Linked DNA regions of Homo sapiens. The protein of the gene in region 6 purifies or fractionates together with the protein of the main gene of each other region. This does not show direct contact. Each region holds a gene or a part of one and is shown on either strand. Other genes may lie near its edges.

Region 1 (3,500 bases), on a different chromosome or scaffold from region 6:
TTTTTTTTTTTGAGAGGGATTTCTTGCTCTGTCATCCAGGCTGGAGTGGTGCGATCTCAGCTCACTGCCACCTCTGCCTCCCGAATTCAAGCAATTCTCGTGCCTCTGCCTCCTAAGTAGCTGGGATTACAGGCACCTGCCACCATGCCTGGGTAATTTTTGTATTTTTGTAGAGAATGGGTTTCACCATGTTGGCCAGGCTGGTCTCAAACTCAGGAGCTCAAGTGATCTGCCTACTTTGGCCTCCCAAAACGCTGGGATTACAAGCATGAGCCACTGTGCCTGTCCGCCTGCTGGTATTTTTAATCGAACCATTAGACTGTTGGAGAGTTAGATAGTCTGGTTAAGATAAAAGAATCTCTCAACCAATACACTGCCTCTTTATGCACTATTCTGTAATTTTAAGGCAGAGAAATATAAAGACCCAAATAGTCTAATTTGAGTCTGATTTGATGATGCAACATAATAAGGGTGTTGAATATGTAGATTTCTTTAGGTGACACAGACCTGATTCTACCACTTGGTAGTTTGTTATGACATGGACAAACTGATCTTTTGGGCAGTCATGTCTTCATATGTAAAACAAGAATAATTAAAAAATAAAAAATAAATAAAACAGGGATAATAGAGTGAAACTTTTCCAATGGTGACAATGGGATAATGTTAAAAAAAAAAAAAAAGCACTTATCATCAAGCCTGGCATATAGTAGGTATTCAATAAGTAATGGCTTGACATTTCTTTGATATCCAAATACGGATCAAACTATGAAACTCCACTGGTATCAGCTTCCCAGTTCTGGGCTCAGCTTCATGACTGCTTTACCTGTAAATTCGATGTCCACAAAAACCTTGATTAGAGCCTCTGCAAGTTGGGGTGCATACTGAAAGTTGCAGAACACACGTTTCCGGTGGAACACACTGGATACCAAGGGATTTGGGGTCTGATCCAGGTGGGGCATCACTGCTTCCAACACCTCTGCTAGTTTGGCCCTCAGGTGGGGATTCTTCATTCTGCAAAATGGGCAAAAAGCAAGATGAGCAGATAAGCTTAACTCCAAATTTATGACTCTGTTCTCTCCACATAAGAATCAAAATCCACCCTAAACCATATTACAGGAAAAAAAAGGATCCACTTCTGCAGTTTTAAGTTTGTCAGTTTCTTGGTGCGGCTGGGCGGGGGGTGGGGTGGTGATGCAGGGTACATCATTTAACTCTTGAGTTGACAGCTTACCAAATATGACGGTGAGCACTTAAGTTTCTATTGAATGCTTAGCCATTGTTTACTTCTCTGTAATAATGCATTATTTACTGCTTCCTATTCTCTGACAGTTTCATGTGGAATAAACTTGCCTTTTCAAGCTTTCTGAGGGTAAAGACTAGAATATAATTATGCTACATTACCCATGACGCATACAGTGTATGCATAATACTTGTTGACTTATGACTTCTCATTAGGTATGCTCAGCTCAGTGAAGAAATGGCTTCTCTCTACTTATCACTGATACGGCTCAGGGAATTGTGGGTCATTCTCTTCATTGTGCAGCAAATCTTCACTTTTGTACACAGAGTTTCCACTTCCTTTAGCCTATGCATCAAAAAAATCAGGGAAGCAATTCTACAAGTCACAGTATCTTCCTTTGGAAAAGAGGACTAGAAGCTATGAGTGAGAAAACTTGAAATGAGAAATAACATTGACTTAAGTTTACTGCTCATCCAACTCAGAATAGCAAGAATAAGCTTTATTATCATATAATTATTAGAAGATCATTAGCACCTGGCTGCCACTGTTAAGTTTCTGGCATTAGGTTAACTACTTTAACCAGGGACTGGCAGTGGACTTCCCATAAGATACTTATATGCAGGATTAAATTCTCTGTGGACAAAGTCCTTTGTTTATTATACCTCTCAACAGTGGGATTTCTGGCTACCCATATGGATGGTCAGGTGATTCCTTAATGTTACCATAACTTCTGAAGGCAACCCCTTATGATTCAGGCTTGTTTATTTCTTGGTTTAGAAGTCTTCTGAATGTTTTACAGCCTAAACAGTGACAGAACCAAGCTTTCAGCACTTCACCTTTCTATGCTTCCAGTGAAAATGGTGATAAAGTGAAGGACATGCTCCAGGGAATCTGCTGATGTCTCCAAAATGTCATCGGCAAAGCGGCGGAGAAAAATGAGAAAATCACCCAGGTTATCTGCAAAAAATTCTGAAAAAGAAAATATTCACTGGAATTAGCCAAACATCTGTATATCTGTACTAATAAACAACATTTAAATTCCTTTCACCCTACTTAATGAAGGTTAAAAAAAACCCTAAATGTTTTGTTGGTACTAGAGATGGTCGTTAAGTCAATAAATGTAAAATCTCCTTTAAATGTAAGTCAATTTAAATTTTTATTCAAGTAAATATATGAACAGTAATGACACAAAATGTTAACACACCAGTATACTAATATATACATTTTTACTCTCAAGGTTAACTGTGGTTTAAACCCTTCAGATGTGTGAGGACTCTCTAATAAAGATTAATATGTTAGGTGACTGTGGTAGCCAGACTCCAGGATGGTCCTCCAATGATCATTGCCTTTTGGTATTCATGACCTTATGCAGTCCCCTCCCACATTCACTCTTTCAGAGTAGAAGATAAACTCTGAGGCATACAGCAGATGTGATAGTATGTCATTTCCAAGATTAGGGTATAAAAGCTTACAGTCTCCATTTTGGTCACTTGCTCTGGGGGAAGCCAGCTGCCATATCATGAGTAGTATTTAGAAGACACATACATGGCCTAGAAAAGAAGCTGCTGGCCAATAGCACAAGCAACTGAGGCCTGTCAACAACCACATGACTGGGCTTGTAAGTGGATCCTCCAGCCCTAGCAGAGTCCTCAGATTCCTAAGGCCCTGATTGACAGCTTGGCTATATAACTTCCTGAGGAACTCTGAGTCAGAACAATGCAGGTGAGTGAGCTGTTTGCAGTTGTTGTTGTTATTTTATTAATTAATTAATTTATTTTCTGAGACAGGGTCCTGCTGTCACCCAGGCTGGAGTACAGTAGTGCAATTATGGCTCACTGTGGCCTCAACTTCCTGGGCTCAAGCGATTCTCTCACTTCAGCCTCCTGAGTAGCTGGAACTACAAGTGTGCACCACCATGCCTGGCTAATTTTTTATTTTTTGTAGAGATAGGGTCTCTCTATGTTGCCCAGGCCAATCTTGAACTCCTGGGCTCAAGTAATCATCCTGTTTCGGCCTCCCAAAGTGCTGGGATTACAGGCGTGCACCATCATACCCAGTCTGTAGTTTTAAGCTGCTATGTTTTGGGGTAATCTGTTACTCAGCATGATATGGCCAATACAATGGTTAAGAACACATAACCTGATTAGATTGACAACACCTGCCCACCCCTCAATGACTCACTGACACACACACACACACACACACACACACACACACACACACACGCACACACACACACACACTCTTTCCCTTCTGAGTT
Region 2 (3,500 bases), on a different chromosome or scaffold from region 6:
GCACTTGCCTATCTCAGACACCATCAGAAGTCCCACTGAGGCCTAGGGCAGACCTCCCCCAAATGCGGGCACATTCTGGCCTCCGGTTTCCACATGAGTTGGAGAATGGGAGATTCGGACATAAGGGAGCACACACGGCCTGCAGAGCTTCAGAGCAGGGCTGGGGTGGCTTGTGGAGGCCACAGCCAGGAGGTGGGTTTTTCTAAAAGCCATTGCTGCTTAAGCATGAAGCAAAAGCTGTCTCATAAGGGGGTGAGCTCCCCGCCTGTTACTAGAACTATTCAGGCTGAGGCCGGCAGGCCATTTGACAAGGAGCTTATGTTGAGTGGGAGGGTGGACCAAACTCTGAGTCTGTGGGATATGGGTTGTACACTTGCTGCTCATTTACTTAATGAGCGCTCATTGAGCACCAAGACCCAGATCATACTCTCTAACTTCACATAACCTTAACAAGAGCCCTGTACTATGCAGAGTATTCTGTTCCCACATTTTACCCTGTGAGGAAATCGAGGCTCAGAAAGGCTGAGTGGCATGCTCAGGGCATCAGCTCGTAGGGACTGAGCCAGGGTTGGAGTCCAGACTGACTTGCTGGATCTGCAGCTTTCTCCTTTTCAGCACTGCTGGGTTCTATCGTGAGAACAGATGGGCTCATGGCCATGACGGTTAGGAGGTCTGCCTTATGCTAGCTCATCTCTCCTTTGAGCGTAGCCTGATCCTTCATCTTATTTTCTCAGGCATAGCAGTGTCCATAAAGGCCCTAACAAAGACTTGGATGCCCCCAGAGATGGGGAGCTCACCAGTCTATAAGGCTTTCAGCCTTCTCCAGTGCAGGCTCTCTGCACAGAAATGGGGCTCCTGCCACTCCCAGAACACCCTTCACTGGCCTGTGTGGGGTCCTCAGACCACCCTTCCAAGTTCCCAAGCCAGCTTTGTTGGCTGGTCCCATAGTCATTCCCCTTGGCTGTTCCTGCGTCTTCTGACTGTGTCCTCTAGATGCCCTCTGGACCATGAAGTTTTTCTGGACAAATGGCTCAGGGCAGGACTCAGAGCTGGCAATGAGTGATGTGTGGTCTCTCTTACCTCCTCCCTATCAGGAACACAGCCAGGACACAGACGCGGATGATGGGGCCTTGCAGTAAGCAGGTACAGGGGTCCTGTCCTGATGGGCAGAGGGTGGGGAATCAGTGAAGTGGAGGTTGTGCCTTTTCCCTGGATTGGGCAGGAAGTGTCACGAAGCATACCTGGCCAAGTAGCACTGACTATACCCAAGAATGAAGTCCCCTCCATATCTAGCCATCCCGTCACACCCCTTCATGCTTGGGGCTTGCCATGCTGAGGAAGCAGGTGCCGTAGATGGGCCAGGCGGGCCCACCTAGCAAGGGTTCCTTCCCTCAGCACACTCAGCCATGTTGCCTGTCTCTGCCCTTGAGGAGCTCCTAGTCTGGTAGAGGAAGACATAAGCCATTACCACCTAGTGTGAGCAGGATAACAATAGAGCGAGGCCAGGTCATGGAAGAGATGATGTGTAGCTGAGCCTGCTAGTGATTGAGGGAGCAATGTTCCACACCAGGGGAATGGCCTTAGCCATACAGAGCTGTGACAGTCCTTGGTATGTGGTGAGGCCAAGAGCCTCCTGTGGCTGCAGTGCCCCCCTAGTTGGTAGAGGACTCTGCTTATTGTCAGAGGGTGATGATTGTGAAGGGCCGTATGTGTCAGGCTTAGGGGCTGGGATTTGATTCTTTCATGGGGAGGAAATGCCCTGTGTGACAGGAGCTGCACCTGCTTTCTCTGAGTTCATCTTCAATCCCACAAGCTGATGATTGTACCAATATAATAGATGTGGAAACAGACACTAAAGGGTGCAGGGAGATAAGGTAGTAGTTGGTGGAGCCTGGATTTCAGCCCAGTGGTGTGTGGCTTCAAAGCCCACTCTCTGGCCACTGTTTACCATCTACTCTGCCCTACCTTAAAGGAAAGCCAGGCCACACCTGGCTGTGCCTACTACTCTCTGACCCATTCCCTTGGGGTGGCTTGGGTGGAGGAAGGTCTCAAACACTAGTGTTTCCAGGGAGGTGTCTGGATAGATGACACATTTATGCTGTAGTAAGATATCCCACCAGCAAAGGCTTCCAGAAGAGCTTTAGAAAATTGTACATATGCAGTCTTCTTTTGGAACTTCTTGGTTTGTTTTGCCTGGGATGCAAACAAACCTCCATATCCAGCCATCCTGCTACACCCCTTTGTGCCTGGTGCTTTCCAAAGCTTGTTAAAATAGTTCACAGGTGAGTTATATGGGCTCAGGTGAGGAAATGGAGGTTCAGAGAGCGGGTGAGACTTGCCCAAGGTTACATGGCCAGGAAATTATGAGGCCACAGCCAGAGTGCAAGAATCTCTCTGTCTCCAGACATCATTCCACCCTTTCTTCCCTACCCCTTTTATCAGCAACAGGGTCTCTTCCTCTCAGCCTTAGTCTCTTCTTTCTCTCTCTCTCTTTCTCAGCCTGACAGGAGCAATGGCCACCAGCAGGTGAAGGGCATCGCTGCCCCAGGCCTCAAGCCGGGCACCCAACCCTGGATGCCACCCCCCAGCGGGTACCAGAGGAAAGCTGGCAGCAGGCGCCTCCTCCCCCAACGCATCCCAGCCAGTGCCATGTCCTCTGCAGGTGGAGTTACTGGCCTACTCCTTCCCCATGAGCCCTCCCTGTCTGCACTGCCCAGGCCAGAGGGTAGAGCACAGGGGTTTCCCCATACTACCTCCCCTCCCCAGGACACTCCCAGGCTTGGGTTTTTTCTATAGGTTTGGCGGGGGGCCACAGGGAGGGGACCCTGACAATAAAGAGATTGGATCCCAACCTGTTCTGAGATGGGATGGTTTGTGTTTTCTCATGAAGATATCCCGGCCCCTCTGCCAACCAAAAAGCTGGTCTAGGGTGCCTAATACTGATCCATCTGGACCTTAGTGTCCTCAGTGGTGATTAAAATGGCCAGTGGGGCCACTGGGGAGGGTTGGATATGCTGGCCCATGAGCATCTTGCTGGCTGAAGTGTCAAGCAGTTGTGACCCACTTGGTTTACCCCATAGTAGGTCAAGACCTTATCTCTTTCCCCAGCTTCTAAGTCTGGTCTTTCCCAGCTCTTAAAAGGATTCTAGAGTCTGCCAGTCTCTACCTTCTCTCTTCTGGCTTAGGACACTATAATTTTTTCATTTGGACGTTGTCCTCCCACCAGCCTCCCAGTCTTCTGCCTCTGCCCTGTACCATCTCCCAGCAGCCACGCAGTCTTTCTGAAACGTATCCCTTCCCTGCCTAAAATCCCTTTACTGACTCTTCATCATCAGGACAAAACCCTACCTCCTGAATGTAGGGTGTAAGATCCTGCTTACTCCAGCCTCTCCTGTTTCTTGTCACCACCCCTTTCCTGCCCCTGACACAAACCCTACATCTCAGTCTCACAAAACACACAAGTTCTTCACACTCCGGGCAGGTTTGGTAGCAAGGAATAG
Region 3 (3,500 bases), on a different chromosome or scaffold from region 6:
TAATTATTGCTATCAAGGTATTTTGTAAGCAAAAGGTATTGAAACAGAGGATTGGATTGTCTCTGTAATCTTTGCAGCTCCTGACTGTCAAAAGACATGGCACAATATGTCATCAAAAAATGCATTTATGAGCTACGTTTTCTTTTTCTTGAGACTAGTCTCACTGTCGCCCAGGCTGGAGTGCAGTGGTGTCATCACAGCTCACTGCAGCCTCCACCTCCCGGTCTCAAGGGATCCTCCCACCTTAGCCTTCTGAGTAGCTGGGACTACAGGTGCATGCCACCACACCCTGCTAGTTTATTTTTTTGTAGAGACAGGGTTTCTCATTGTTTCTCAGGCTGGTCTTGAACTCCTGGGCTCAAGTGATCCACCTGCCTCGGCCTCGCAAAGTGCTGGGATTACAGGAGTGAGCCACTGTGCCCAGCCAAACGACGTTTTTAAAGCTATCTCCTTTTAGGAATTTATTAAATGCTCATTGAAATTTGGTACTACTCAGAGCTGTCTTGTGAATCCATATAGTAGTATAAATTTTACTGGAAAAATTGTAATCTTGAAGATACCCTTTTTGTATGTATGATTTAGTAGAAAACACTAGATCAGGAATTTAAACTTAGGTCCTAGACTTCATTTTGCCACAATTGCTTTCTAAATCTAACAACATGGACAGATCATTTAATCATTCTGAATTTGTTTTTTATGTATAAATTAAGGATTTTAGTTATTACTTTGTCTGGTCCCAGTAGGTCCTTATGGGAGTCGTGTTTAGTAATGATGTAAGCGAGTGCTTGTAGTAGTGCTTCAAAGTATATTAGAGTAGGCATCTTGATACTACTACTACAGAATCCATGTAATAGTGTAACATGGTGGGTGTGTAAGCTTATGAACCTTATGTCCATATTTCTTTGTTAAGCTCAACTACCCAAGTGTGTGTTAGAAGAAATAGCCAAATAAGATTCACTAGAGATGGTAGAATGCTATCTAAAAGTCCTGACTTCTGATGTTACGTAAAGTTTCCTACAATTTAAAATGCTATAATTGTTTAATACAGGACAAAATCTATTATGTAATGAGAAATTTGTTTCATCTTGCATAATTGAATTTTTTTTTTAATACAATTTTGAGTTATTCTTTTTTTGTGATTTCTCTTTCAGGAAAGATCGTCCTACTTGGAGTACCAAAAAGTAATGAGAGAAATAGAACATTTGAGTCGTTTATATATTGCTTATCAGTTTTTGCTGGCTGAAGATACCAAAGTACGCTCAGCTGAGGAATTAAAAGAAATGCAAGATAAAGTTATAAAGCTTCAGGAAGAATTGTCTGAGAATGATAAAAAAATAAAAGCACTTAATCATGAAATAGAAGAATTGGAAAAAAGAAAAGATAAGGTCTGAACATATGTATAAGAATCGATAATATACTCTGTGAAAAACGTACTAAATTATATATAGTAACTATTTAGGATTCATTGGGCATTGTCTTCCGTATTGATTTGTTAATCTTATAGTAAGATAATGAAATAACTTATAAAAAAGTGTTTGATACAGAACTCATACAATAAAATGACAGCGTGAACAAATTTTACATAAGTGATTGAATTGACTGCATTTTGTTATAGGAAACTGGAGGTATACTTCGATCTTTAGAAGATGCTCTTGCAGAGGCTCAGCGAGTTAATACTAAATCTCAAAGCGCATTTGATCTCAAGAAGAAAAATCTGGCATGTGAGGAAAGCAAACGCAAAGAGCTGGAAAAAAATATGGTTGAGGTAAGTGAGCTTAATGTGCCACTAGTGCCACTTGTAGACAAGTATATAGTCTCATTAGTGTACATTTATCTATTCCATGAATATTTAGTGAGTGTCTTCTATAAGCTAAGTACAGTTGTTTGGGCTGTGGTTACAACTGGACCAAATGGTCAAAAATCCTTGCCTTGTGGACCTTCATTCCATTGGGGGAAATGATAATAAAGAAAATAAATAAAACATGTAACATGTTATAGAGTGATAACTGATGTGGAGAAAAAGCAGGGAAGGGGATTAGGAGTGTAGGGGAAAAAGAGTACAATTTGGGATTTTAAGTTGGATAGCCACTGAAGTAAGTGGAGAATAGGAAGAACGGGTTTGATAAGCTTAAGAAATACAGTATGAATATAATAGGCTTGAGGAGCCTGTTAGACATCTTGAGTAGTGATGTTGATTAGGTACTTAACTATATGAATATTGAATCCAGGCAAAAATACAGATTTGGAGGCATCATCAATGTATAGGTGTTATTTAAATCCATGAGACTAGATAAAATGATCAAGGCTGTAAGTTCATATAAGAAGGTTGGAGCCCTGGGATACTTTCAACGTTTGAATGTTAGGATAGTTCAACATTCAAAAGAGATTGAGTAGTGTGAGGAAAATTAGGCCAGTAAATTGTCCTGGAGTCCAGGTAAAAAAGATGTTTCAAGGAGAAGTGGCCATGAGTACCTGATTAGATTGTGTTCATACTCTCACAGAATGAAGGCAGAAAAAAGAAAAGTGAATATAGATAACTTTTTGAGAAGTTTTCTGAAAGAGGGATAAATAGGGAGGTAACTGGAGGGTAATACAGAAGAGAGTTTTTGGCTTGATTTGACATGGGATAAATAAATTCTATATTGACAGAAAAGATCCAGTAGAAAAGTCGTCATTTGTGATTCAGGAGAGAGAGATGGGAGAGTTGTTAAAATAGGGCCCCTTAGTAGCTGCAAGTAGGATAGGAACTAGTGTATAGAGGAGGTCGCCTTCGCGAGAACTAGGAATAGGTCATCCATGGTAACAGAAGAGTCAAGTATATAGTCTCACATGTAGGTAGATGAGTAGGTGTGTTTTTGGAGCTTATGGCATTTCTTTTGAGGGTGATTCTGTTGTCCCAGTGAAGGTATACATTTGCCTTTTCACTGAAAAAAAATTAACTTTGTGAAAATAATTTCTTTATACTGCCCTGTTAGATATTTTTGCAGAGAAATACATTGTTGAATTAAGAAACAGTGGAGGAAAATTTAGACAAAATTTTGAAGCGATATGAACGTGTTGTAGCAGTCTGTGTTGTGGCATCCAAGAACTGAAATCAATTCATCAATTACTTTTTTTTTTTAGGTGAGGTTTGTAAAGCTCTAAACATGTGGACCTGCCTTGTTTTGGGTTCATTTTTCTTTAGTCTTGTCATGTCCTTAAGCTTCACACACTGATTGCTCCTTTTTCATCCTTCTTTTCTGTATCCCCTTATTCTTCTAGATCTCTTAATGTTAGTATGCCCTAAGGCTAGCACTCTGATATCTTTTATAAACTCTCACGCCATAGGTGGTCTCATCCAGCTCTGTAACTCTAAATATCATCTATATGTTGATGCCCTCCAAATCTATAAGCAGGCTTAACTCCCTAAACTCTATGAAGCAGGTTTATTGTGTGCAGATTACCAACTTGTCTGAAGCCAGCAGACATAACACATTCATACACAACATTTTATGTGAAAT
Region 4 (3,500 bases), on a different chromosome or scaffold from region 6:
TGACATCACACCTTCTGCTACTACTACAAACTCTCATTTAGTAAACTTTTTAAAAAACATGTCAGCAGGAATTAAAAGAATAGTCATCTAAGTCTAGGTTGACTAGTTTTAGGAATGTTGGACATTAAAAGTCCAAACTTACCAGTTCAGGTTTCAGTATTTTTGAAAAAATAATCTTTAAGTTAAAAAAAAAAAAGCCACCAAAATAAACACTGATAAAAAAAAAAAACTTACTTCTTTTTCTTTCTGAAGCCCTTGTGTTTCCTGTTTAAGGCTATCCATAACTTCCTTTAATTTTTTTTCTTCTTTCTCTTTTTCCTTCTCGAGGGCATTGTTTCTGGTTGTTGTTTCATTAATGATATTGTTACTCTTGGCAGGTATACTTTTAAATTCTTCAACCTGAGATTATAAAACAAGTTATAGGAGCATACATCTTTATGTTACCCAATACTATCAATATTTGACATATTTAAAGGCATTTCTCAGGGTCCTCTAGTTCTTCTTTTCTTTATAATCAGAGTTAAATTAGCTAGCTTTAACAAGTATTTTCCCGACTATTCACTGTAATTTCTATATTCTCTCAATCTAATAGTAAAACTACTTCTACAAACACCTGACCTCTTATGAAGGAAAACTGTCTCTGGCAGGGCCTCAGGTCTGTCATCCTTCTCTCCTGATTTCAGGTTGTAATTATTCTTCTTTAGCTATAAATATGCTCTGACTACACGGAATTTTCTAAACTATCCTTCCTGGTATATCATAACTTACCACAAATTATCTTTACCATCTCCCCAACCCTAAAATCTTTCACAACTTTACTCTTCCAGAGTCATCATGTAGGGCTAATATTTTACTCCATTAACATCTTCTGATAATAATCACTTATCCATGCAGTCTATGCCTAAAGGCTAATCACTCTGTAACAGTTACACTTAGCTAAGTCTGTCAAGTCTTTGGGGTTACCCCCAAAGCCTTGTTATTTTGTTTACTCTGATTATCTAGTACCTGTGAAGTTCAACATTTCCCAAAATGCCACTTCCTTAAACACTGACTCAACGTATTTATCAGCTGTGCTAAGCAGAAAGTATTTTGTGAACAAATACATTTAGAAAATGCTTATAGCGTAAAGTAGAGCCTAATCTATAATTATTGTGTAACCATATGGAACAAAGCTTTTTTTTTGCGGGGCTGGGGTTAAGGTATCATATCTGTTTAAATATGACAGAGCTATGAACATGAACACAGCTTAAGAGATTCCAAATTATGAGCTTTCCTATCTCTCTTTAAGACACAGAGTCTCACTTTGTCACCCAGGCTGGATGCAGTGGCTTGATCACTATTCACTGGAATCTTGAACTCAAGGCATCCTGCCGCCTCACTCTCCTGACTAGCTAGGACTTTTAGGCAAGTTCCACTGAGCCTGGCTAATTTTGGATTTTCTGTAGAGATGGGATCTTACTATGTTGCCCAGGCTGGTCTTAAACTCCTGGCATCAAGCAATTCTCCAACTTTGGCCGCCCAAAGCACTGGGAATACAGGTGTAAGCCATTGTGCCTGGCCAACATTGGTAATTCTTGGGAAATCCTGCTCTGATCCTGTTAGCTTAGTTTTTGTAGAAGACAGGCAATATTTTTAAGTCTGTAATACCTAACTTAAATATCTTTAAAAACTACTACTTTAGGAAAAAGAAAATTAAAATTAACACCAAAATGGAACTCCTGATTTGGTAAATGTTTTCCCAATAACATATTATTGTAATATAAACTTTAAAACTCAAAGTCAAGCTAGGAGCAATGGCTCACACCTGTAGTCCACGTTACTTTGGGAGGCTGAGGTAGGTTTCTTAAGCCCAGGAGTTCAAGACTATAATCATACCACTGCACGCTAGCCTGGACAACAGACTGAGACCCCATCTCTGCAAAATTCCAAAACCAAACAAAAAACCTCCTGCAAAATAAAGTCAGTAGAAGCAAGGTTTCCCTTGAGGGGGTAAAATCATGTTCAGAGACAAACCTTAAAACAACATTTAGAATACTAATTCATTCTCTTAGGCAATAAGGGGCAAACACATCCATGAAAACTAGGTATGATATTCAGACGTGAAATTTTAAGAATTTTTTTCTAACACCTACCTTTTCTTTATCTTTTTGAAGTTGTTTCTCCAGTTTTTTGGCTTTACTCGTGGCATGTTTTAACTTTTCTCTAACTTGAACATCTTCCAAATCTAGCTGTGTAAATTTTTCTTTATTCTCCTCAATAAATTTTGTAATTTTATTCAGTTTCCTAGCAAAGCAAGTATATTGTAAGTCATTATTTTGAATGTGCACATATTTTAAAACCACATTTCCTACCTGGAACACTTCCTCTATAAATATGTCCAGGCTCTTAATAAGGCAGGATCCTAAAACTCTCCTTATTCCAAGATGATCCCTCTCCCCATAGTTGAAGAAGCACCTGTATTTTTGATTATGACAGCTATTTTGCCTTTCTAAGTTGGAGGGAAAATAACACATTTTCCAGTGACTACAATGTCTAGGTATATAAAAATTTTACCATAGGAGTAAAATTTTGGTTTTACCTTTTACGAATATACTTACAAGTTACTATACAATAAACTTACTATACAAATTTTTTTATTTAAAAATAATTAGAGATACTAGTGTCATTGAAAAATGGCATCAAGTAGGGACATGATAAAACCCTTAAAAATCTATCTAGAAAAACCCAAATCCTATCCCTCTATCAGATTTGTGGACTACTAAAAGATTAAACTGTGAAGCCAAATGCTTATTGTTTGTTACTGTGCTACGCCACTAGGGGGTAGCATCCCCACGGTTCTAAGACTTCAGAGTAGGGAATTTCATCTGTAACAAGGAACTGGATGCAAGGCAAGTTTTTTTTTTTCACTAAGGGGGCCACCACTTGATATGCTGGCAAATGTCTTACACTCACAATGTGCTAGAAGTAACTTTATATATAAATACACATGTAATACAATTATCTAAATACTTTTAGTACTTCCCAAAATATTATTACTTTTCTGTATCTTTTACATCTTTATTCTTAGCTTTCATTTCATTTGATAGTATATTGCTCTTCTCATTAATTTCTTTGGTATCTTCATGAATTTTTTCCTTTTGAGTTTCCATTTCAGCAATTCGTTTCTGCAACTCATAACTATAGGGAGGAAAAAAAAAAAAAGAAATTGAAGCTCCTAAAATGCCATTTCCAAAACTGTATAACAATTTTAGTAAAACTAACTGTTTCTAAAATATTATTAACTAGTCAATATATGACTGCCTAGGCTATGAGGGGAAAATCCCCCTGGGTCAAGGCTAGAATTTAGGAACAAAAATCGATTTCATTGTACCAATGTGGTGGCCGACGCCTGTAATCCCAGCACTTTAGGAGGCTGAGGCAGGCAGACTGCCTGAACTCAGAAGTTTGAGACCAGCTTGGGCAACATGGCGAAACCCCATCTCTACCAAAAAAAGAAAAAA
Region 5 (3,500 bases), on a different chromosome or scaffold from region 6:
TTTATCAAATCAGTCATTCACACAGGCAGATTTTTATTTATTTGAAGTCTGTAATCGAAAGGATACCATTTTTCAATTTGCTTTGTTCAACAATTCAATGTAGATTCCCCAAAATGGCACATGTATCTCCACTGGATGCTACTAAGTGGAGCCTCAGTATCCTAAATTGTAATACATTGGGAAAATAAAAGGCATTTTTCTGGTTAGATTATATAGTGTATATCATGGTAAAAAGTAAATTAATCTACATGTCTTTCCTTACCAGAACTATGATATCTTGACTATTAAGTTTAAGAGATAAAATGAAATGTCAGTATTTTGATAGGCAAATAATGCATGATATAAAAAGAATGTAAAAATATTTTCAAAGGTACTTTTTGGTCAGTTACAAATTATAGAAGCCCTCAAAATTATAGAAATTATCATAATTCAATTCAAATTTCTTTAAGCAAAAAAGGGAGTTGTATTTCCTCTGTGATGGCTTTAGACAGGGTTAGATTCAGATGCCAAAAAATGCAGTCTCATTTTTATCTGAGTTAACTTCATTTTCAGTCAGGTTCTTCCTCTTCTCATAATAGTGGTAAGATAGCCACTAGCAATGCCAGGCTGGTGTTCTACTAGATTTGAAACACAAATATCTCTTTATCGACAAGTTTCCCAACTTCTCATGCTCTTGTTTGGCCATCCTGCGTCATGTGCTCAAACCCAAACCAGTAAAGGTTATGGGTGTGAGTATAGCAATAGGTCAGACCTGGGTCATGTTTTTACTTCTAAAGCAAGCTTGTGCAACCTGTGCCCCAGGATGGCTTTGAATGTGGCCCAACACAAATTCGTAAACTTTCTTAAAACTTTTCTGTTTTTTTTTTCTTTGCATTTTTTAAAGTTCTTCAGCTATCATTAGTGTATTTTATGTGTAGCTTGAGACAATTCTTCCAGTGTGGCCCAGGGAAGCCAAAAAATTGGACACCCCTGTTCTAGAGATATTGAAAGATTGTCAGCCTTATCTGAGGCACATACACTAAGAATGAGAAAGGGTGTTTTCCAGAGGAAAACAGGGGCTCTGTTGCCAGAAGAAGAATGATTGGATACCAACTGAATGACTGAGTAAAATAACAGGTATCCACTGTTGATAGGAATTGCTTTGTAAGTGTAATGTCATATGTGTGTAGTAAATATGGCAGCCCTAAATAAAATAATTCATACTATTAATTGGGAGCTCTCAAATTATAATGGAAGTTGTTTTGCATTTACTTCAATATGTGGTTTTATTAAATAGTTTATGATTTTTCTGCCATGATAATGAAGAAATATGATGCCTATAGGTAGTCTCATTCCTTTATAGCCATAAAACCATCATGAGTTGGAGTTCTTATTTGTTGAAAGAGTAAATATATCTTAATGTCTGTTTTTAATTAGAAACATATCAATATTAAAATCAGTTTATGTGGTATTTTTAAAACTCATAGGATTGTTATAGAAGTTCTTTTGTGATTGCAAATAGAGAAATTGTAAATTTATTACTTTTTTCTGATAACAGTTGATGCTAGCATAATTAGTATAATTATATTGTTAATCTTATCTTTTTTTGGATAAATAACTTGTGAGTCTAGAATAAGGAAGGTTTAAGTAAAGATTCTTTTAATTTAAAAGTAGTAGTATTAAGCTGGGTACAGTGGCTCACACCTATAATCCCAGCTACTCAGGAGGCTGAACCAGGTGGATCGCTTCAGCCCAGGAGTTCGAGGCTGCAGTGAGCTATGATTGTGTCACTGTACTCCAGCCTGGGTGGCAAAGGGAGACCCCCCTCTCTAAAAATAAATAAATACATACATACATACATACATACATACATACATACATACATACATAATTGAAGCAGTTCATCACTGCTAAAATGGGTTTAGATTTGAAACAGGAACTGTCCAACACCGAAACAATAGTGACCAAATTTATGGAAATACTTGGTTGTGAAAAAAGAGTGTAAAGACCATTAGGGAAATATCTTCATCTCTAGAGGATTTTCTTACCTATTCTTTCTTTTTCCAGTTAAACTTTGTGTCTCCTTTATAACCTTATATACTTCTGTGCAGCACCCTTAAGACTCCTGCACTGATACACACTCATTTTCTACAACTATCTATAACCTCTTTAAAGGCAGGAACAATGTCATATATATCCTTTATCTCCAGCTTTCAACACAGGGCTTGGGCCATTCAGTAAGCGTTTATAAATGATTAGGTAGATGCTAGCAAATATAATCATAACTCTGAAGGGCAATCTGATTTGTAACTGTCAAGAACATATCTGACTTAGTTTTATACATGTTATACCAAATAATTGGTATGCCGTTGAAGATCAGTTCTTTTCTCCCGATTCTTTAGAAATAAGAATATGTGTATTTTTCTCAGCCAGAGCATTAGCAGACTTCACCAGTGAAAATGAATCCATGTATACAGTTAGAATTTGCTATTTGTCGTTTCAGTTGGAATTTAAATACTATCAGTATACAGACATTTGCTTTGGTAAATGCCTTTATCTAAGAAGTAAGAGAAAATAATCTATCTTACATAATTCTCTTTGCTTCTCCTCTGTTTTTTCCCACCAGTATTCAGTTGTCCACCATCTCAAAGCTTCCATGTTTTTCTCTCTCACTTTTCCTTAACTCTGGCCCGACACTTAAAATGTAAATATAAAACTACTGTCCTTGTAATGTTATTTAACTGAATTTCAGTTTTTTGTCTCAACTTCTTTTCAGAGAGTCTGTTTCTTCTCTCTGCCCATATTAGATTAATACTGTGTGCAAATAGGTATGGATATATTTTTTAATTATTCAGAGAAAAAAGACAGTGTAAGGCAAAGAGGATTCTCATGTTCTTTTGTCAAAAATAAAAATTGGGTGATAAATGCCTTGTGTAAGCTATTAAGTATTTACTTTTATTAAATTTTGAAACTTTTTATATTTATGTTTCCATTAATTTTCTAAATTTGGTAGTCTTACACAGAATAGCCTATTGTCTAAAGTTAGAAAATGCTATATATTATAATTACTAAGATGCAAACATTAAGTCTGGTCTTAAGTCATAACACATCTTTAGTTTTTTAATCTTGCCAACAAAACTTGGGGCCACATCAATATTTGATTAAACATTGATTGTGGTTGACAGATTTGTTATTTAAGATTCTTTGAAATGGTTAAACACTAAAATTCAGAAGATGAGTATTAACTACATAAAAGCACCTTTAATATAAAGATAGACATTGTCATATAATTCTTCAATTTTCAAAAATATGGATATTTTTGGAAGATGTTTACTGTCATTAAAAGTTAACACTATTTTAAATTATATATTATTTCAAAGTTTTTGAGTATTGGCCGGGCGTGGTTGTAATCCCAGCATTTTGGGTGGCCGAGGCAGGCGGATCACCTGAGGTCAGGAGTTTGAGACCAGCCTGGACAACATATGGTGAAACCCCATCTCTACTAAAAGAATACAAAAATT
Region 6 (4,270 bases):
TTACATCTCTTTGCAGCCCTTTAGCTTCTTGGAAAAGTTCTGGTAGCAAACAGAAAGACTTGTCCGTGGGAGAGCTATCCGGTGACATCCCTTCATGTTACCAGTCAGCTTATCTAAGTTCTTCCCGGGTTGCCCTTGATGCTTTCTTGGTTTGGGCTTATTTCATTTTCTTTCCTTCTTTTTTTTTTTTTTTTTTCCCAACAATAAAATAAATAGCTAAAAAGGTCTCTAAGTCATCGGAAAGTTAACATCCCAATTAACTTTCCCATCCCCACTTCCCTCCCTTTCTAAACCTGGCCAGAAATGAAGAGTAAACATTCACATTACAACAGGTACTTATAATGTGGGCTTTGCCCGTTCGTCCGCCTAGCAAGACAGATTCAAGTTCACTGTTTACATATTACTGGGCGCTTTGTAAACAATACAAGGTTACTTTTAGTTTTGTTTTGCTGTGTGAGGACGAGCGTCGCTTTCTCAGCTTGGCAGCCTCTTTCCTAACTCCCAGCGCCTGGAGCCTCTGGAAGGAAACAAAACCCCAAACAACAACAAAATCTCCGCAGAAGCCTAGGAGGCAGGGCCGCAACCCCGGGAAGCTGTGGTCGGCCCAGCCCCTGCCGGATGGGCGGAGGCGAGTGGGGTAGGAAGATTAGTGGCTCCTTTTTGCTGCAGATTTCCAAGACGTAAAGAGATCCGGCCCTCCCCTGCGCTGTTGCAGCCCTCGCGGGGAGGGGGTGTGGGGGGGATCTGTTCCTGGAAACATCTGAGGCAGTTTCTCTAGTCTTGAAACTGCGCAGAGTTCGGGGCTCCGCCGATCTGGGCGGAGGGAAGACGCGCTTTTCTCGGCGAAGAGGGGGTGACAGGGTTTCCCCCGCCGGTCAAATAGGAGGGGGTTTCGGGGCCTCAGGGAGGGGATGGTTCGGCTCAGGTGGCCCCGGCCTTCCTTGATGTGGGGGCGAGGACAACTCCCACGCGCCTCTCGGCCCATCTGCAAGTTTGTGTTTGGTCTCCTGGGTCCAAAACAAAGTTCTCTTGGGGCAAGGCGGGTTGGCCGAAGGTGAAATGAACAAGTTAGGGTGGCGGTCCCAGGTGGGGGCCGGCAGGACTGGGAGCCAGGGAAGGCGAGTGAGGTGGTGGGGAGGAGAACGAGAGGGGGCGTGGGCTCCTGCGGGTCAGTGCACCGCCACCGAGTGCAAGGCGGAGGCCGGGCTGGTGAGCGTTTCGCTGGGGGTGGCGGGGCTGCTTTGGCTGGTGGCTGTTTGCGAGGACGTGGGGCTGAGCGAGGGCGGCGAGTTCGAGAGCAAGGTGGGGATGGGCGCTGGCAGCGCAGGCAGCGCGGGCACGGCGGCCGGCGTGGGCTTAATGGGCACGGGGATGGCGGGCAGCGTTTGGCCCGCCGCGTGGCACAGCGGCTTCAACGGCACGCCGTAGGCGCTGTAGTCGCCACTCGCCATGGAGATGGGGGTGGCCGAGTCGATCATGCCGGCGGAGCCATACACGTGTGGCCAGCCGGTGCCCAGCGAGCTGCCCATGGTAGTCAACTGGTTGGGGAGCGGGTAGGCAGCGGGCACCGGCTGCATGGCGGAGAAGGCCAGCCCCCCAGGCATCTTGTATTCCCGCGCGATGATGTTCTCGATGGCGAAGGGGTGCTTGAAGCCCGAGGGCTGCGCCACGCCGCCCAAGTTGTAGGCGGCGGCGGGCATCTGTGGCAGGTGCGTGCCCGAGGCCGCCAGCGCGCTGAGCCGCAGCTTGGCCTGCTGCTGCAGGTACTGCGCCGCGTCGGCTGGCTTGCTGGGCGCCAGGTGGTCGGACTTAAGCACCTTGAAGCGCTTGCGGCGCCGCAGGAAGCTGCCGTTCTCGAACATGTCCCCGCAGCTTGGGTGCAGCGCCCAGAAGCTGCCCTTGCCTGGCTGGTCCGGCCGCCGCGGGATCTTGATGAAGCAGTCGTTGAAGGAGAGGTTGTGGCGCAGACTGTTCTGCCAGCGCTGCGTGTTCTCCCTGTAGTAGGGGAAGCGGTCCATGATGAACTTGTAGATCTCGCTCAGCGGCAGCATCTTCTCGGGAGAGCTCTGGATGGCCATAGCGGTCAGCGAGATGTACGAGTAGGGCGGCTTCTGGTCGCTGTACGTGTTGCGGCCGGGCCGAGGCATCTTCTTCCTCGCCCTCTTCTTGCTCTGGGTCCGCGCGGGCCGGCGGACTGCTCGGATCTGGGAAGGGGGTGGGTAATAGGGAAAGGTAGCATGGATGCACAGAGACACCGGCGGGGTCAGCCAGACCGAGTAACAGACTTCGGGGGTCGGGGGTGGGGCCTGCGGCGCTCGATCAGCCAGCGCCCGGACTCTTTCGCCAGCAACTTTGCGGGCTTAGTGGGCGCGGGAGGGGAAGCCGGCGAACGGCGCGAGGATAGCCGGGAAGTAAGTCGGTACTGGGGCCAGAATAGGGGGCAGGGACGGAACAGAGAGCTGCTCACCTTAAAGTTGCTTCAAGTTGCGCGTCCGCATCCGGGAGGACGCCGCTGCGCGCCGCTTCTCTCTCGGCGCGCACTCGACGCGCACTCCGCGCGCAGCGTCCGGGTCCGGTTGGACTCGGCGCGAACCTGGGCTCTTGAGCTCAGCCCCGCAGCGTCCCGTGCCGCCCGGTCCGCGACGCTCCTGGAGCGTCCTGCGGGCGGCCGAGCTCGGCTGCGGAGTCCCGGCGCGGATGGTGGCAGCGACGTGTTAGGGCTCCGGAGGGCGCTGCTGTGGGCTCCGCGTCTCCGCTGAGCTAGGTGGCTGCCTCCATGTCCTCCCTCGAACCATCTGATAGTTTTAAGCGGTGACAGGAGCAGAAAAGACCCCTGTAGCGGCGCTTCATTAATGTGCCACTTCTTAGCTATCATATGACAATCGCCTTGGGAGGAGGAGGAAGAGGAGGGGGAGCGGGGGCTGCAGAGGGAGGGGACTGAGCGAGAAGGGAGAGCCCGGCCAGCTCTGGTTTCTTTCACACCTATTTACATGGACACCTTGGCCAATAGGAATCACTTCCAGCTCAAGACTGGGCGAGGGGGAAGAGCCTCGGCCACTGGGCAGGCAGCTGGACGCGCCGGCCGGTGTGCGCCGTGTGAAGGTATGAGGAAGCGGCCGCCGCGGAAGAGGGAGCCAGGCGACCACTCACGTTCACAGATGGAGCAGCCGCGCGGATGATGTTTGACATGGAAATTGCTTGGCTGGGGTATTCTGTTTCCTCTGCGTTGTATCCGGTTTGTATCGTTAGGTAACTTTAGGCACGGCTTTCCCCTGAAGCCGACCCTTTTCCTGCGCTTAGCACTACCCGGGGTTGGTTGCATGGGTTATAATAATGAAAACACACCCTTGCCCCCCAGTCCCCGGAGAGTTAGGTCGAAATTTGACTTGACTTTCCTATGCAGCTGCTTCAGCTTTGTATAGTTAGTGTGTAGCTTTGAAAAAGTGATGGGGTTTACAAATACTTTCAAAATGTGATTGGACATCCCCATGTAAGAACCCATTTTGAATGTAACTGTATTGACCAAATTTTTAAAAATTAAAATAGTGTATCTGGGCGAAGAGTCCAGGTATTTGCTTTAAAAGTCCTCCGGGAATTTGGTTGGACACAGGATGGAGGCTCAGGAGCTGTTGGGGCAAATGTTGTGCGGACCTGGGGAGGGCCTGAGTTTGTTTGACACAGTTTATCACCAGGTAAGCCTCAGGGGCTCTCGCTTTTCCCAGGTGGTTTGAAACTTTAGGACTCAGGCACATCCTGGAAGTTTTCATTTTACACCCGGAACTCCCCTTCCCAGCCCTCCCACCCCCCCAACCTCCCACCCCCCATCCCCCAACTGCCGCTTTTTTTGGTATGGAGAACTTATTTAGGATTTAGAGTGTAGCAAAAGCCGCCTGCGATCCCACTAAGACAGCAGTATCTTCTACAACTTGGGGAAAGAACCATAGAGTTTTCCTTCTTGGGGAGCGGGGAATGTGCCTTGGGTCACTCCGCCTGGTGCGAGCAGCAGGCTCCCTTCGGTTCGGATTCGCCTTGGAAGGGTTAAATGAATCATTATTATTATTATCATTATCCTCATCGTCGTCGCTGCCGTCATCATCATCATCATCAAATTGCTATGAAATAAATAGTGAGTCGACCCCGCCTGCATGCACGCACTCTATAAGTACACACCAGGAGTTCCCACGGGTTTCTGCACATTCTCCGACCTTTAAGGTTTTTAAAAGACATTCATTTTACTGCGTTGTTAAAAACTCAATACTTACAGCCCACA
Region 7 (4,267 bases), on a different chromosome or scaffold from region 6:
AGAGCCACCCTAAGCACGCTCTGCAGTGTCAGCATCACCTGGCAGTATGCTAGAAATTAGAAATGCAAATTCATGAGCACCAGCCCAGACCCATTGAGTCGGAAATTCTGAGGGTGGGGCCCAAGAATGTGAGTTTCAACAAGTTTGAGAAGGACTGCGTCTCCTATATGAAATGGAAAACAGCTGCTCATCCTCTGTATCCTTGCATAATAAAAAATGATTAGTGTCACTATGCCACCATTTCCTCAGCGAAATAATTTCCATCCCCCCACCGCCTCCGAGGGTCTTGCACTCTCACCCAGGCTGGAGTGCACTGGTGCAATCACAACCCACAGCAGCCTTGTCCTCTCGGGCTCAAGCAATCCTCCCACCTCAGCTTCCTGAGTAGCTTGGGACTGCAGGCGCAACCACCACGCCCGGCTAATACGGCTAATATTATTTTTTCATTTTTTGGAGAGACGGGGTCTCGCTATGTTGCCCAGGCTGGTCTGGAACTCTTGGGCTCAAGGGATCCTTGTGCCTCGGCTTCACAAAGTGCTGGGATTACAGGCGTGAGCCGCCGCGCCCGGCTCTAAATAATTTCTTATCGCCCTCCCTCAGTTTGTTTTTCCTGTTATCGGGTCACCCACACATTCCACAATTGTCAAATAGGTGAGGGCACAGGTACGGAAGCGTCCCGCATTCCCTCCAGATTTTATCACGCTGAGACACAAAGAGAAAAATAGCTCCTGGCGACCGCATGAAAACCCCGATTTCAAAACAGCCACATGCAGTTTAATTTCCTTAAAAGCTTAGCCGGAAAAGGTTTCTGTGGCTTGCGACCCCAGCTGGGCTTGAGAGAAGGCTCTGCACACTGGGGCGGGGGCGGGCACAAGGTGATCGGAGGGAGGGGGATGACTCGCAGTTGTGTTTTGAGTGGTTGCCTTGGGTTATCTTGTTCCTCCAGCACACACACACTCAGTTTCTTGTCATAAGGGGAACCCTGTTATTTTGTAGACAAAAAGTGACAGAAGCAACTTTCGAAGCAAAAAAAAAAAAAAAACAAAAAAAAACAAAACCAAAAAGACGAAGAAGAAGAACAAAAGTCAACGTGAAATCTCCCCAGAGGAAAAGGAACCGCGCTGTTTGTCCCTCAGTAACTGAGCAACACCCCGGACACGAAGGGCTCCCTGTGACTTCTGCGGTTTTTCTTGCACTTCTCCGCGTTGGTTCACTTCCACCCTCGAAACTCTCCAGAAGCGAGAAATAAGGCGGGGTGGCCGCCACCCCCAGGCCACCAGCTGTGCGGGGGCCCCAGCTGCAGGGGGTCCCGGCCCAGCGTCCCTCTCGGCCCCTTCCCTCTCCCCCGGGGGAGAAGGGGCGGGTCCACGCGGCCTGGGCGCTGCGCCCGACACGCGGTAGGGGTCGCTGCGTCTCGGCGCGCGCTCCCACCGCGGTGAATAACGGGGCCTGGCTGGAGGAGAAAGGAAACCTGCTGCGGGAGGCGGCGGCGACCGGCCAGGGAGCGAGGGAGGAGAGTTCACTTTTACTTCAGTGTCAGCGCGCGGCGGCCGTGGCTGGCTCTGGCGAGAGAGCACCGAGGGAGTGGGTCGCAGATCTTCGGGCGGCTAGGGGAAATCGGCGAGAGGCGGGATCCGAGCGCGCCGGCGGGGCGCAGAGCCCGCGAGCCTGGCCAGCGAGGGTAGCCGCGGGGGGCGCGCCCCGGGCGGGCCCCCGGAGACGCGCAGGATGCCACACGAAGAGCTGCCGTCGCTGCAGAGACCCCGCTATGGCTGTAAGTGCGCCGGGCGCGCGGGGTTCCTGCTGGCCTTGGGGAGCTCCCTCCCCGAGGACGGCGTTGGAGAAGCCGAGGGAGCCGGTTGCGCGGCGCAGAGGAAATTGGAAGGCAGCAACTGCGCGGCTGGCAAAGTTGGGAGCTGGAGTTGCAAAGGGCAGTGAATCGCGTCCCCCCGCTCCTCCCGCCCCCCAATTCCTAATATCCAGCTGGCAACCCAGACCCTCCACTCCGCATACCCAAACGGGGTGCGCGGGCAGTGCGGGGATTGCGCTCTGGGACAGACCAGGTTGGGATTTTAGGGGTATCAGGTGAGGAGTCCGCGGAGCTCCGGGTCGCCGCCGGCTTGGGCCAGGGGGTGGCGTAAGGCACCGGATTCTTCCAACCCAGAAGGGGAGGAAAGTTTGTTTGCTGTGGCTACAGGTGGGCACCGCAAGTAGGGCGCCGGCGCACTCTGCTAGTGCAAAGCCGGCTTGACTGGAAGGGCGGGAGTCTCCTCCTGTCCCGCGCCCTCGAACTTCACCTGACCCGCTAGAGCCATTGGCCTCACAGGTGTAAGTCCCTCCCCTCTGAAACCCCCCAACCCCTTTCCCCCCCGCTCCCCTCGCGCGGGAGGATTGCTGTGTGGAGAGGACGCGGCACTAGGCTCCGGGGAATCCGGCGGGAGCCCGCGTGACTTGAACGAGATGGTGTCGATTACCCAGCCAGGGGCTGCCCTCGGAAATAGGTTGCTTTGGCCGATCGTGAGTGGATGGAGCCAGATTAACACCAACCACGTGGCTTCATGTGCAGAGTTCAGAGTCCTAAACATGTGCCAGGAAGCATTTCCTTTAAAACAAACAGAAAGTTGGCCTGCTGTCTCTCCAAGGTGGCCCTGTCAGTGAACCCAAGGCCGAAGACCACAGGTTAATCTTTGCCCAGGCTGGCCTTGGTGGCAGAGGTACCAGGTTTGGGTTAAGGTGGTGATACCTTCAGCAGGGTGTTTTGTTTGTGTGTGTGTGTGGTTTTGGATGGTGCGTAAGGCCACTGACTTGCTTAACTGAAAAAGGGCTCCTCAACTTGTGTAGGTTCTTTCCCCTCCTCCCCGCTGGCGTGTCAAAGATGGGAGGTTATCTTTCCTGTGTTACCCTTGCAGTGAGGGGGAGGCCTGAGGACTACAGCCTCTGTACTCTAATGCATTCAGCAGTTGACTGAGACCCAGCTTTTTGCCTTTTGGTAAACCACACAGACAGCAGAGCCTCTTGGGTTCAAGAGGGAACGCTGTGCTCATTCAGTGTTTGCAGTGCCAACCTCAGGTGGGACCCAGCTTTTTGCCTTTTGGTAAACCACAGATACAGCAGAGCCCGTTGGGTTCAAGGAGGAATGCTGTGCTCATTCAGTGTTTGCAGTGCCAACCTCAGGTTGGTGGAAGTACTTTAATGTGACCAGCTCTCAGAATATATGGTGGCTTCACTGTGTCAAATGATAAGATAACCACAAACTTCTGCAAACTAGGTGAATCTACATGAACAAATGATTTCTTGCTATCACATGATTGATGTCGGCCCTCATGAGCAATAAATAGTGCAAAATTTCCGTGAATGTGGTACATGAATGCAGCATTTCTGTCAGTCCCTGCATGTGCATCTGTGATGCTGCTTGATTTTCACGGAATAAATCTGTGTTTTAAGTGCACTCCAGAAGAAGCTATCAAGGGAGTCCAGATCTGGCAAGCCTGAAGCCCACTCCACAGGGCCGCTTTCTTTGGAAATCTTCATCCAGCTTTCTTCACCAATGTGGTGTAAGGGGGTGGTGTGCCATCTTGTTGGAATCACTCCCGGTTACTTTCCCTCCACTCATCAAGTGCTGGCATTCAAGTTGGTCACTTAACACTGTCAAAATGGAAAATATTTGCCTATGTTTCCAGACTTTCTTGTCACCCTGAAATATTAAGGCTTTAATATGACAGTTATCTCATTAAAATGAACACTTTTATAATTTTGGTTTATGAATGGTGTATTTTCAGTGTATTCAGAACATGATATCTAGCAGAATAGATTTTGGCGTTAATAGGCATTACCTAACATTACCTATTCATGCAGAAGAGGGCTATTTGGTGTGTTAGTGTAATTTCTGGTTGTTGTTGGCTTTCTGAGCCTCCTATCAACATGAGACTGAAAATCGTGCTGTGAGCTCTTCATGGGAAGGCTAGGGAAGGATAACACAGGATTGTCCTTGCTCTGTTGTGTTCTAGGGCTGTGCTTTTTCTTGTTTATTGGTTTGGTAAATACAGTTTCAGTAAAACCTCAAATTATAAGAAACAGGTGTTACCCCTAGCATTTAAAAATAAAGTAGCAATACATTGTAATTTCAGTTCTAGTGCTGAACGTTCTGAGTATAAGATGTTTGAGACTGGGCTTTAAACACAACTTTTTGGTAGTTTGAATTAAGTTGTCTATTGCTTATTTTGGGTCTGAGCTTCTGTTCTGCTCTCTCTCCTACCCACTTGACTCC

The links.
Region 1: the proteins of FOXB1 (region 6) and UBE4A purify together in Homo sapiens (affinity purification with mass spectrometry; one large-scale study listed by BioGRID and IntAct). This does not show direct contact.
Region 2: the proteins of FOXB1 (region 6) and RALY purify together in Homo sapiens (affinity purification with mass spectrometry; one large-scale study listed by BioGRID and IntAct). This does not show direct contact.
Region 3: the proteins of FOXB1 (region 6) and SMC2 purify together in Homo sapiens (affinity purification with mass spectrometry; one large-scale study listed by BioGRID and IntAct). This does not show direct contact.
Region 4: the proteins of FOXB1 (region 6) and SMC4 purify together in Homo sapiens (affinity purification with mass spectrometry; one large-scale study listed by BioGRID and IntAct). This does not show direct contact.
Region 5: the proteins of FOXB1 (region 6) and NOVA1 purify together in Homo sapiens (affinity purification with mass spectrometry; one large-scale study listed by BioGRID and IntAct). This does not show direct contact.
Region 7: the proteins of FOXB1 (region 6) and IQGAP2 purify together in Homo sapiens (affinity purification with mass spectrometry; one large-scale study listed by BioGRID and IntAct). This does not show direct contact.

What each region holds. Positions count from the first base shown.
Region 1 is NC_000011.10:118,380,100-118,383,599, reverse strand, and holds part of UBE4A (ubiquitin conjugation factor E4 A), read right to left. Parts: intron 2,381-3,500; exon of another isoform or gene 2,210-2,380; coding exon 2,077-2,209; exon of another isoform or gene 2,040-2,076; intron 1,012-2,039; coding exon 824-1,011; intron 1-823.
Region 2 is NC_000020.11:34,077,411-34,080,910, forward strand, and holds part of RALY (RNA-binding protein Raly), read left to right. Parts: intron 1-1,094; coding exon 1,095-1,139; 3' UTR 1,140-1,143; intron 1,144-2,499; 3' UTR 2,500-3,500. UniProt on the Homo sapiens protein: RNA-binding protein that acts as a transcriptional cofactor for cholesterol biosynthetic genes in the liver. Binds the lipid-responsive non-coding RNA LeXis and is required for LeXis-mediated effect on cholesterogenesis.
Region 3 is NC_000009.12:104,100,809-104,104,308, forward strand, and holds part of SMC2 (structural maintenance of chromosomes protein 2), read left to right. Parts: intron 1-1,151; coding exon 1,152-1,385; intron 1,386-1,615; coding exon 1,616-1,765; intron 1,766-3,500. UniProt on the Homo sapiens protein: Central component of the condensin complex, a complex required for conversion of interphase chromatin into mitotic-like condense chromosomes.
Region 4 is NC_000003.12:160,413,150-160,416,649, reverse strand, and holds part of SMC4 (structural maintenance of chromosomes protein 4), read right to left. Parts: intron 3,178-3,500; coding exon 3,037-3,177; intron 2,284-3,036; coding exon 2,133-2,283; intron 400-2,132; coding exon 235-399; intron 1-234. UniProt on the Homo sapiens protein: Central component of the condensin complex, a complex required for conversion of interphase chromatin into mitotic-like condense chromosomes.
Region 5 is NC_000014.9:26,451,534-26,455,033, reverse strand, and holds part of NOVA1 (RNA-binding protein Nova-1), read left to right. Parts: intron 1-3,500. UniProt on the Homo sapiens protein: Functions to regulate alternative splicing in neurons by binding pre-mRNA in a sequence-specific manner to activate exon inclusion or exclusion. It binds specifically to the sequences 5'-YCAY-3' and regulates splicing in only a subset of regulated exons.
Region 6 is NC_000015.10:60,002,841-60,007,110, reverse strand, and holds the start of FOXB1 (forkhead box protein B1), read right to left. Parts: upstream 2,801-4,270; 5' UTR 2,468-2,800; intron 2,205-2,467; 5' UTR 2,148-2,204; coding exon 1,170-2,147; 3' UTR 1-1,169. UniProt on the Homo sapiens protein: Transcription factor expressed by neural progenitor cells in specific regions of the embryonic neuroepithelium. Essential for the mammillary nuclei maintenance.
Region 7 is NC_000005.10:76,401,818-76,406,084, forward strand, and holds the start of IQGAP2 (ras GTPase-activating-like protein IQGAP2), read left to right. Parts: upstream 1-1,467; 5' UTR 1,468-1,728; coding exon 1,729-1,774; intron 1,775-2,506; exon of another isoform or gene 2,507-2,558; coding exon of another isoform or gene 2,559-2,679; exon of another isoform or gene 2,680-2,714; intron 2,715-4,267. UniProt on the Homo sapiens protein: Binds to activated CDC42 and RAC1 but does not seem to stimulate their GTPase activity. Associates with calmodulin.